2 linked regions of the Homo sapiens genome follow. The protein of the gene in region 2 purifies or fractionates together with the protein of the main gene of each other region. This does not show direct contact. Each region holds a gene or a part of one and is shown on either strand. Other genes may lie near its edges. The genes, in order: GSTZ1 and PLA2G4D.

Region 1 (3,812 bases), on a different chromosome or scaffold from region 2:
GAGTCTCCCATCTCCTCAATTAAGACTCTCGTTTCCAGGCCTCTTCAGCCCACCCAGCTTCTGCTCCTGTGGCCCTGTGCCAACGGGGCAGGATTTGGGAGCTAGGCCCTCAGCTCAGTGGGTGTATCTGGCTGCCGGCAGGGGTGAGACACCTGGAAGGCCTCCAAGACCAGCAGCCTCTTGTTGATGGAGCTGATGGTAGGGTAGGGGGTGAGATCCACCTTGAATCTGTAGTAGAGAAACACCTGCTAAGCTAAGGTTTTCAGGGACACAGGGAGACTGCCCTGATGCAGCAGGGGGAGCAGAGAGGCAGGGCTGGATGAGGTCGAGGGAGCTGTCCAGGGAAGGACGATGGGGCAGCCCTTATTCACAGGGGATGGGTAGGTCTTGTGCAGTATCATTTGGCATCTGTTACCTACTGTTCCTATTTCTTTGTGAACCTGCTATGTGTAAGGCCCAGTGCTAGGCATTTATATATACAGACTCTCTTCCCCCATGTTGTAAGCTTCTTGGGGGCAGGGAATGTGCCATACGTTTCCATATCCCTAACGCCTAGCATGATGCCTTCCAGAGAGGTGCTCATTTGTGCCCTACCAAAGGGTTCACGGAAGGATGCAGAGGTAGAGCTCACTACTGCTCACAGACACACCACATTTGAGGACATCAGGCAGGTGCTCTTGGGGGTCCACCAGGTGAGCCACCTCCTCTTAGGAGCTGGGGCTATCTATACAGGTTCATCTGGGCTGTGGTGGGCGTAGTAGGAGCACTGCCCCAATTTCTTCTGCCCTCTTCCAGGCAGAAGTGGCTATGTGGCCTGGCATGGTGGGCTCCTTGGCTGGTTGGCGAAGCGTCTGCATGAGATGCTATCTCGCCAGCTGAGTGGGGCCTGACTGTGGGCAGAGCCACGAGAAGGGAGGGTGGCGGGGCTCTCTCTTACCTTTCAGCATTTGCCACCTGAGGCACCAAGCACAGATCAGCCATGGTCACCTGAAAGAGGTCCCGGTGGGTTCCCATCAGGGTGCATACCCCAGAGTCAGTGGCTGGACTGGGTGTGTCCACTGCGACTCTACTGGGGGTACCAACAATCTGCTTCGGCTCTTTCACCCATCCCACCTCCAATTCTTGTCTGCCCTAGGCCTGCATGAGTCTGTCCCCCGGAGCTGAAGTGCCCTCCCAGGCCATGCTCCAGTTGCCCTGACAACCAACTCTGTGGGTTGAGAGGGCCAGAGAAGATGGATTGCCTTGACTGCGCAGACATCATCTAGCACAATCCCTCAACTGATGCTGGCCCGCCTCATCCTCTCACAGCCAGTCTTCTACCTTGAGTAACTCCCTCTTAAGACGGTTTAGTGGGAGTGAGCTGAGGAGTGCCCCATGGCACAGAGATCCCCCTGCAGACGCCTTCTCAGGAAGCTCTGAGCTTGAGGGAGGTCAGCATGAGGGAGGCAGCCACTGTGGCTGGGCCTGGGGAGGTCTGGGGACAGCTTACCTCGTCTCCTACACAGTATATGCCCGCTGTGCTCTGTAGGATCTGCTCCAGGGCTGTGGGGAGGCCACATAAACATCTTATTCTGGGCGCAGGGAGGGGACACAAAGCTTTCTGGGCCTTGGCCTCCATAGTTATGAAATGGGCGCCCAACTGAGTGACAGACTGGGCATGGCTGCTGGTGAGAATGTGGCAGCCAGGTCTCGAGAGAGCTGTTAGGGATGAGCTGCTGTTTCCTGAGGCTCCGCACAGACAATCACCATTTCCCCACTCGAGTGGACAAGCCCTGCCACTGGCCACGGTGACAGCTCTCACTCTGATGGCTGGCGCTGTGCTGGCCTTGGTTTCCCAGCTGGAGTAGGCAGTGAAGCTGAAGTTGGGCCATCCAGCTATGAAGGGCTGTGGGCTCAGGGACCGAGGTTCCCAGAAGTGCTGGAGCTAAGGTCTGGATGCCCACCCAGCCCATTGCCTCCCCAGTCCTGCCCTCATCCATGCAACTGTCAGGCCCAAAGCAGCCTGGGAGGCTGGTTCAGATACCCAGGCCCCTGTGTGCGAGGGCCATACCTCTAAGAGGCCACTGTGGGGCAGCTCACAGAGGTGAGGACTCACCGTTAAAGCCACAAGTGATGGCGTTCTGGGCCCAGGTCAGCTGCATCTCCTCTCCCACTTGCTTCAGGACAGACAGGTTCTGTGCAGCCCAAAGAAAATCTGTGATTGCGCTGACAGCTGGGTGGGGGCTACCCCTTCGCCAAACCCCCTCAGGGAAGTTCACTTCCCATCTGCCCCTGGCTGGATGTCTATCCCTTCTCCCCCAGGCTCCATGAGCCCCTTCCTTCAACCAAGGGCCCTGAGGTTGGAGGGAGGTAGCCATCCCAGCAGCCACCTTTGCAGGCTGCCCCAGTGGCCTCAAAAAGCCACGTGATTCTGTCAGAGATGTGCAAGAATCCCTATTCATGTGACACAGGACGCGGCCATGGCTGTGGCAGGTGTGCCCACAACTCGAGGCCTGTCTCCCTCACTTCTCCCTTGCATGGTCCCTTGTGAGGAGAGGGAGTGTGAAAGAGGGTGGGGCTGGGATGAGGGAGGTCCACAAGACCGGCTTCCAGAGATTTCCAGCCTGGCTCCATCTTGGCACCCCTGGAGCCATTTTCCCTCTGTTTCCTCATTATAAAATGGAGATGTCTGTCTGCTCCAACATCCTTTGTTAAAGCGACATGCGGGTAGAGGGCATAGGCATGCAGGGATTCTGACTTAGTCCCCACTTTGTTATGACCTACCTGTGGGACTCCTAAGTCACTCCACCTTTCTGGGGCTATTTCCTCATTCAGAGTAGAAGCTGGCACAGATGAACTGTTTTTAATACTTAGTTGTCTGTTTTAACAGTGACACTTAAAAAATAAAATCCTACAAGTATCCCAGTATATGACTGAGATAGCACAGATGAAACGGAAGCTGCTCTGGTTAAAGGCAGGAGGCCTGGACTGGGGCCTGCTCAGTCTCTCCCCTGCCATTCTGGCCCTTTCCCCACCCCAAGCACCTGTACATGCGTCCTTGGAAACTAGAGCTTCTCGGAACGCAGCGGGGGACCCGCTGGGGGGCTGAATTCTGAGATTGCGATCTTCACCCCCTTCTTTCACATGGTCCAGGTCAGAGGCCCTGAGAATCCCCCTCCCTCCCTTGACACCCCCGCCCCCACACTGGGCAGCTCACAGCCAATGTGTGAGTGTAAGAGTGTGTCAGGTGTGCAAGGGTGCAAGTGTACAAGTGCCACACCTGCAGGGGCTGGATGCCACCAGCGATGAGGTCAGAAATCATACGCACGCTGGCCCTCTTCTTTGGGTCCTGAGGCAGAAGTCGCGGAGTGGGACGCATCTCCTCTAGATACTCAATGATGGCCAGCTGTCCAGAGGGGAGCAGTGAGGCAGGGAGAGGGCCCAGGACCCCTGGACCAGAGGGGACAGGGCCAGCAAACTCCTCCTTCTCCTCTTCCAGCACCATCACTACACCTCTTCCCCCCTGCTTCTGCTCAGCTCAAGCCCTATAAGCCTTTTTGGACCTTATCATGCAGAACTTGGTTCTCCATGTGCTTGAATCTTCCCTTATTTTCCTAAATAACCTCGCACCCTCCCCACGAGTCTTGTATTGAGCCTCTCCTATGTGCTAGGCACCTTGACTGTACACAGGCGAGGAAGAGATGTCAGGCGCTCTCATTCAGGGCACTGCTCTCATGAGGGCCCTCCCCCAGGCCCTGCACTCACTGACTGGTGAATGGTGATTCCATCAATCTTCAGGGTTGGCACCTGCTTCATAGGATTCAGTGCCTGGA
Region 2 (3,812 bases):
CCCAGATGTGGAATTTGTGGAACCCCTTCCCCTTCGGGAACAGAGCAACATGGGTAGTGGACAGAGCAAGGAAGTGAGGGCCAAGGAGTGGCAACCACAGAGGTCAGTTAGATGTCAGCCATTCCCAGAGCTCCCAGGGAGGGCAGCCCTTTGGCAAAACAAGGGTTACCTTTGGTGACCCTGCTGCCAGCACTGCCCACCCCTCAGCCCTTCCGGACGGGAAGCAGGCATATGACTTAAGGGAGGGTGAGCCTCAGCAGCCCAGTCCACAGGCGCTACCCTGGATCTCAGCTATCTGCACTGTAAGGGGTATGAATGAGGAAACTCCAAGAGCATCCAGCCATCACAGGGAGCAGTGGGTGCTGTGGGTGAAAGGCCACTGTGTATTAAGATGCTGATGAGGCCACATCAGCCACAGACAGCCCAGGTGTGAGGGAGAAGCAGCTGAGTGGGCAGAAGCTGGAGGAGAAGATGAGCCGAGAGTAGGTGGCAGGAGGGAAAGCAGATGGCCAGAGGGGCGTGGCTGAGGCCTGCTGGGGTCAGAGCACTGGGGGTGTCCCCACACCCTACTGCTGAGGTCCCCGGCACTGCCACGATCAGGAGGGCCCTGGAGTTTCTGTTCTTCCTGAGCCCTGCAGCACGGCTTTTTCTGGGCATCTGGCACAGGTTTCTTATAAGCCCCTTTGATGTGAGGTTACTCAAATCGGTTTGGCAGGGCAAATGGCATTTTTTCCTGTGGGCTGACCCCAAGGAAGGCTGTTGGCCTTGCATCCTCTTGGAAGGGAGCCTTCCCAGGAGGACCACCTATGAGGCACGTGGCCCCAGCAGAAAGAGCCCATGTCCAGAGGGTCTGTTAGAACAGGGGCTGTCAGGAAGGAACACTGCCTGTGCCGGGGAGTGGGGCAGTGGGAGCCCCAGCCAGGAGGGGATCCTGCAGGGCCACAGCATGGCAGGACCCCCAGGAGGCACCAAGCACATGAAGGCCTATGAAATGCTAACCCCAGGAGCCATGCAGTGTGGCGGCCCTGCTGAACAACCCAGAGACCACCTTCATTCCAGAAAAAAACCCGTGCTGGGGCTTCTGCCATTCAGCGGCTCTGCCACCAGGTTAGACTCCCCATTAAGTAAGTACGATCTTCTCAGACCCTATGTCCCTTCACCCGCTCCTCCCCGACCCTGAGGGAGCCAAAAGCCAGTGCAGTGTTTGCACAGTGAACATTTGATATCGCATAGCTGGGAGACTGTTGTGATAAAACCAGAGGTGTTTCCTGCTTTGCGCTCTCCCGTGACCAGACCCACTTCCATGCATGTGGTTGGAAGTTCTCGGTGCCCACAAGGACTCGTACCCGCTCTGCACAGATGCTGCTTGCTAGGGGCTGGCTCAGCACCCACGGGGACCTGAATCTCCACTCCCCACCAAAAACTGTAAAGGACCATGGGCCACAGCAAAGCCATATGCCTGGTGGCCCTGCCCCTGCATCTTTCCTCTCTGTGGTTCCATGCCAACGTCCTATCATTCCAGGCAGCTTCCCAGCAGAGCACATGTGACCTCCCCGAGCAAGGTAGATTTGTTTCTCTCTTCTTGGGGATTAACTCCAGTGGCACCAGCAACATGTCAACTCTATAAACCTTAAGCCTTATAGAGGTTGTCAGCAGCAGAGATTTCATGAACTTTGGGACATCTAGCTCCATTTCCTCCCCTCACTCAGATTCCACCACTGCCGGCCACAGGGAGGTGATGGCTGGGATGCTGGGGCCCTGCAGGGTATTGAGTTTGAATGTCCCGCTCCAAGACAAGACAGGTGAAGGGCAGAGGCAGCCCAGCCTCGCTCCCCTGCTCCCCCGGCCAGGCTGATACTCCACAGGTCCACAGCTTGTGGGCTGCTCTAAAGTCACTTGGGCTACTGAGAAGTGGCCCCAGTTACTCACTGTCTAGCCAGTCACCATCCCGGGTTTAAGCACTGTGGTTCATTTCTCCCTCCCATCACTGAGAGCTTCTCAACCTCAGAAAGCCCACCATTCCCCGGCAGGTTATTTTCCCTAGAGAAAAATCCCGATTCTCTTCACCTCTAAGATCATCGCTAACATGGAGTGCCCAGAACATGGTATTATTGGGACAGTGATTACAATGACTGGTCTTTACGGGGGCTTAAAGGCAGACTCTGGAGCCAGGTTGTCTGGATTTAAACCCTGGCCCTGCCACTTACTTGCTGTGTGACCTTGGACAAGTCACTAAACTTCTCTGTGCCTCTGTTTCCTCATGTGTAGTGGAAATAATAGTTTTGACCTCACATAGTATTCTGAGGCTTAAAATGTTAATGCCTGCAGACTGCTTAGGAATAAAGTAAGCAGTTTTTAGGTAACTGCTATTGCTACTACTGTTTATTAAGTATTTGCCATGTTTTCAGGCACTGTGAATGTTGCAGATACCAGGATGAAATCACTTTTGTCAGACCCCGACAAATTAGGGCTGGGAACGCATGAAAGAGCAGAGCTCGTATTTACATGTCTGAGATGAGAGTTGTTTCCAAGGACTTCCTACAAACCCCACAGAAAACAGCTTCACATCCTTCATGCCAAAGTCCCTCTTTGACAGGAAGAGGGAAATGAGCAGACCCGCCCTGTTCCCTGCTAGCACCGGTGCCCTGTGGTGGGGTAATGCAGGAGGTCAGAGAGAAGAGGAGTGGAACACCTGGGCACAGCCCCTGGTCCTGGGGACTCAGTCCTGTGAATGCCGGCTGGAGGTGAGGCAGTTTCCAGTTGTGGGGCAGACTCAGGCTCCCAAATCGCTGACACTTAGGCTTTTGTTTTACCTGGGAGCTAGACCTAGAGGAGGCTGAGGGAAAAGGGGGAAGGGGTACAGCCTTCGCCAGGGAGATGAGTTGACAAGGTTCATCACTAGACATCCATTAGGACTGCAATAATTCAGATAAGATGCTCTCAGAAAACACGTGCCCAGTAACAGCATCTCCACCAATGAACTGACAACTCTGGCTTTGAGCTCTGGAACCAATGAACTCTGTTTCCAAGCAGTTTCTGTGAGCCTCCCCCTTTTTTCCAGTAAAAGCTTCCCTTTCCCCTTCCCTCACAATTGCCCTGGCGGCCTGTCATTCGACACATTCCGAGCCACAGTCATTTCTCATTCCAGAGTAAACACAACATAGAGATCATTTTCTCTCGTGTCTTTCTGTAGGGTGACAATACTGTACTAACCATATTACCTACCGTGTGGGTGGCAAGCCACCCAGGCGCCGAGGCAAGAGACCGAGGATACAAGCTGTTCCAGTATAATAAAATATAAAACAAGAATAGTTATACCAGATATAGATCTTAGATACGATTATATATGAATATCATTAATCATTAGTTTGTAGCAATTACTCTTCAGTCCAATATTATAATAATCCTCGCTCTATAATCATAACCTAGGAAAAACCAGGCCATACAGAGATAGGAGCTGAGGGGACACAGTGAGAAGTGACCAGAAGACAAGAGTGCGAGCCTTCTGTTATGCCCAGACAGGGCCACCAGAAGGGCTCCTTGGTCTAGCGGTGACGCCAGCGTCTGGGAAGATGCCTGTTGCCAGGCGGACCATGGTCTAGCGGTAGCGAAAAGTGTCAAGGAAAAACATCTGCTACTTAGCAGACCGGGAAAGGGAGTCTCCCTTTCCCCGGGGGAGTTAGAGAAGACTCTACTCCTCCACCTCTCGTGGAGGGCCTGACGTTAGGCTCGCCCGCAGTTACCTGGAGGCCTAACCATCTCCCTGTGATGCTGTGCTTCAGTAGTCACGCTCCTAGTCTGCCTTCATGTTC

The links.
Region 1: the proteins of PLA2G4D (region 2) and GSTZ1 purify together in Homo sapiens (affinity purification with mass spectrometry; one large-scale study listed by BioGRID and IntAct). This does not show direct contact.

What each region holds. Positions count from the first base shown.
Region 1 is NC_000014.9:77,327,485-77,331,296, reverse strand, and holds part of GSTZ1 (maleylacetoacetate isomerase), read right to left. Parts: coding exon 3,745-3,812; intron 3,386-3,744; coding exon 3,260-3,385; intron 2,175-3,259; coding exon 2,096-2,174; intron 1,543-2,095; coding exon 1,490-1,542; intron 988-1,489; coding exon 938-987; intron 229-937; coding exon 102-228; 3' UTR 1-101.
Region 2 is NC_000015.10:42,087,924-42,091,735, forward strand, and holds part of PLA2G4D (cytosolic phospholipase A2 delta), read right to left. Parts: intron 1-3,812. UniProt on the Homo sapiens protein: Calcium-dependent phospholipase A2 that selectively hydrolyzes glycerophospholipids in the sn-2 position. Has a preference for linoleic acid at the sn-2 position.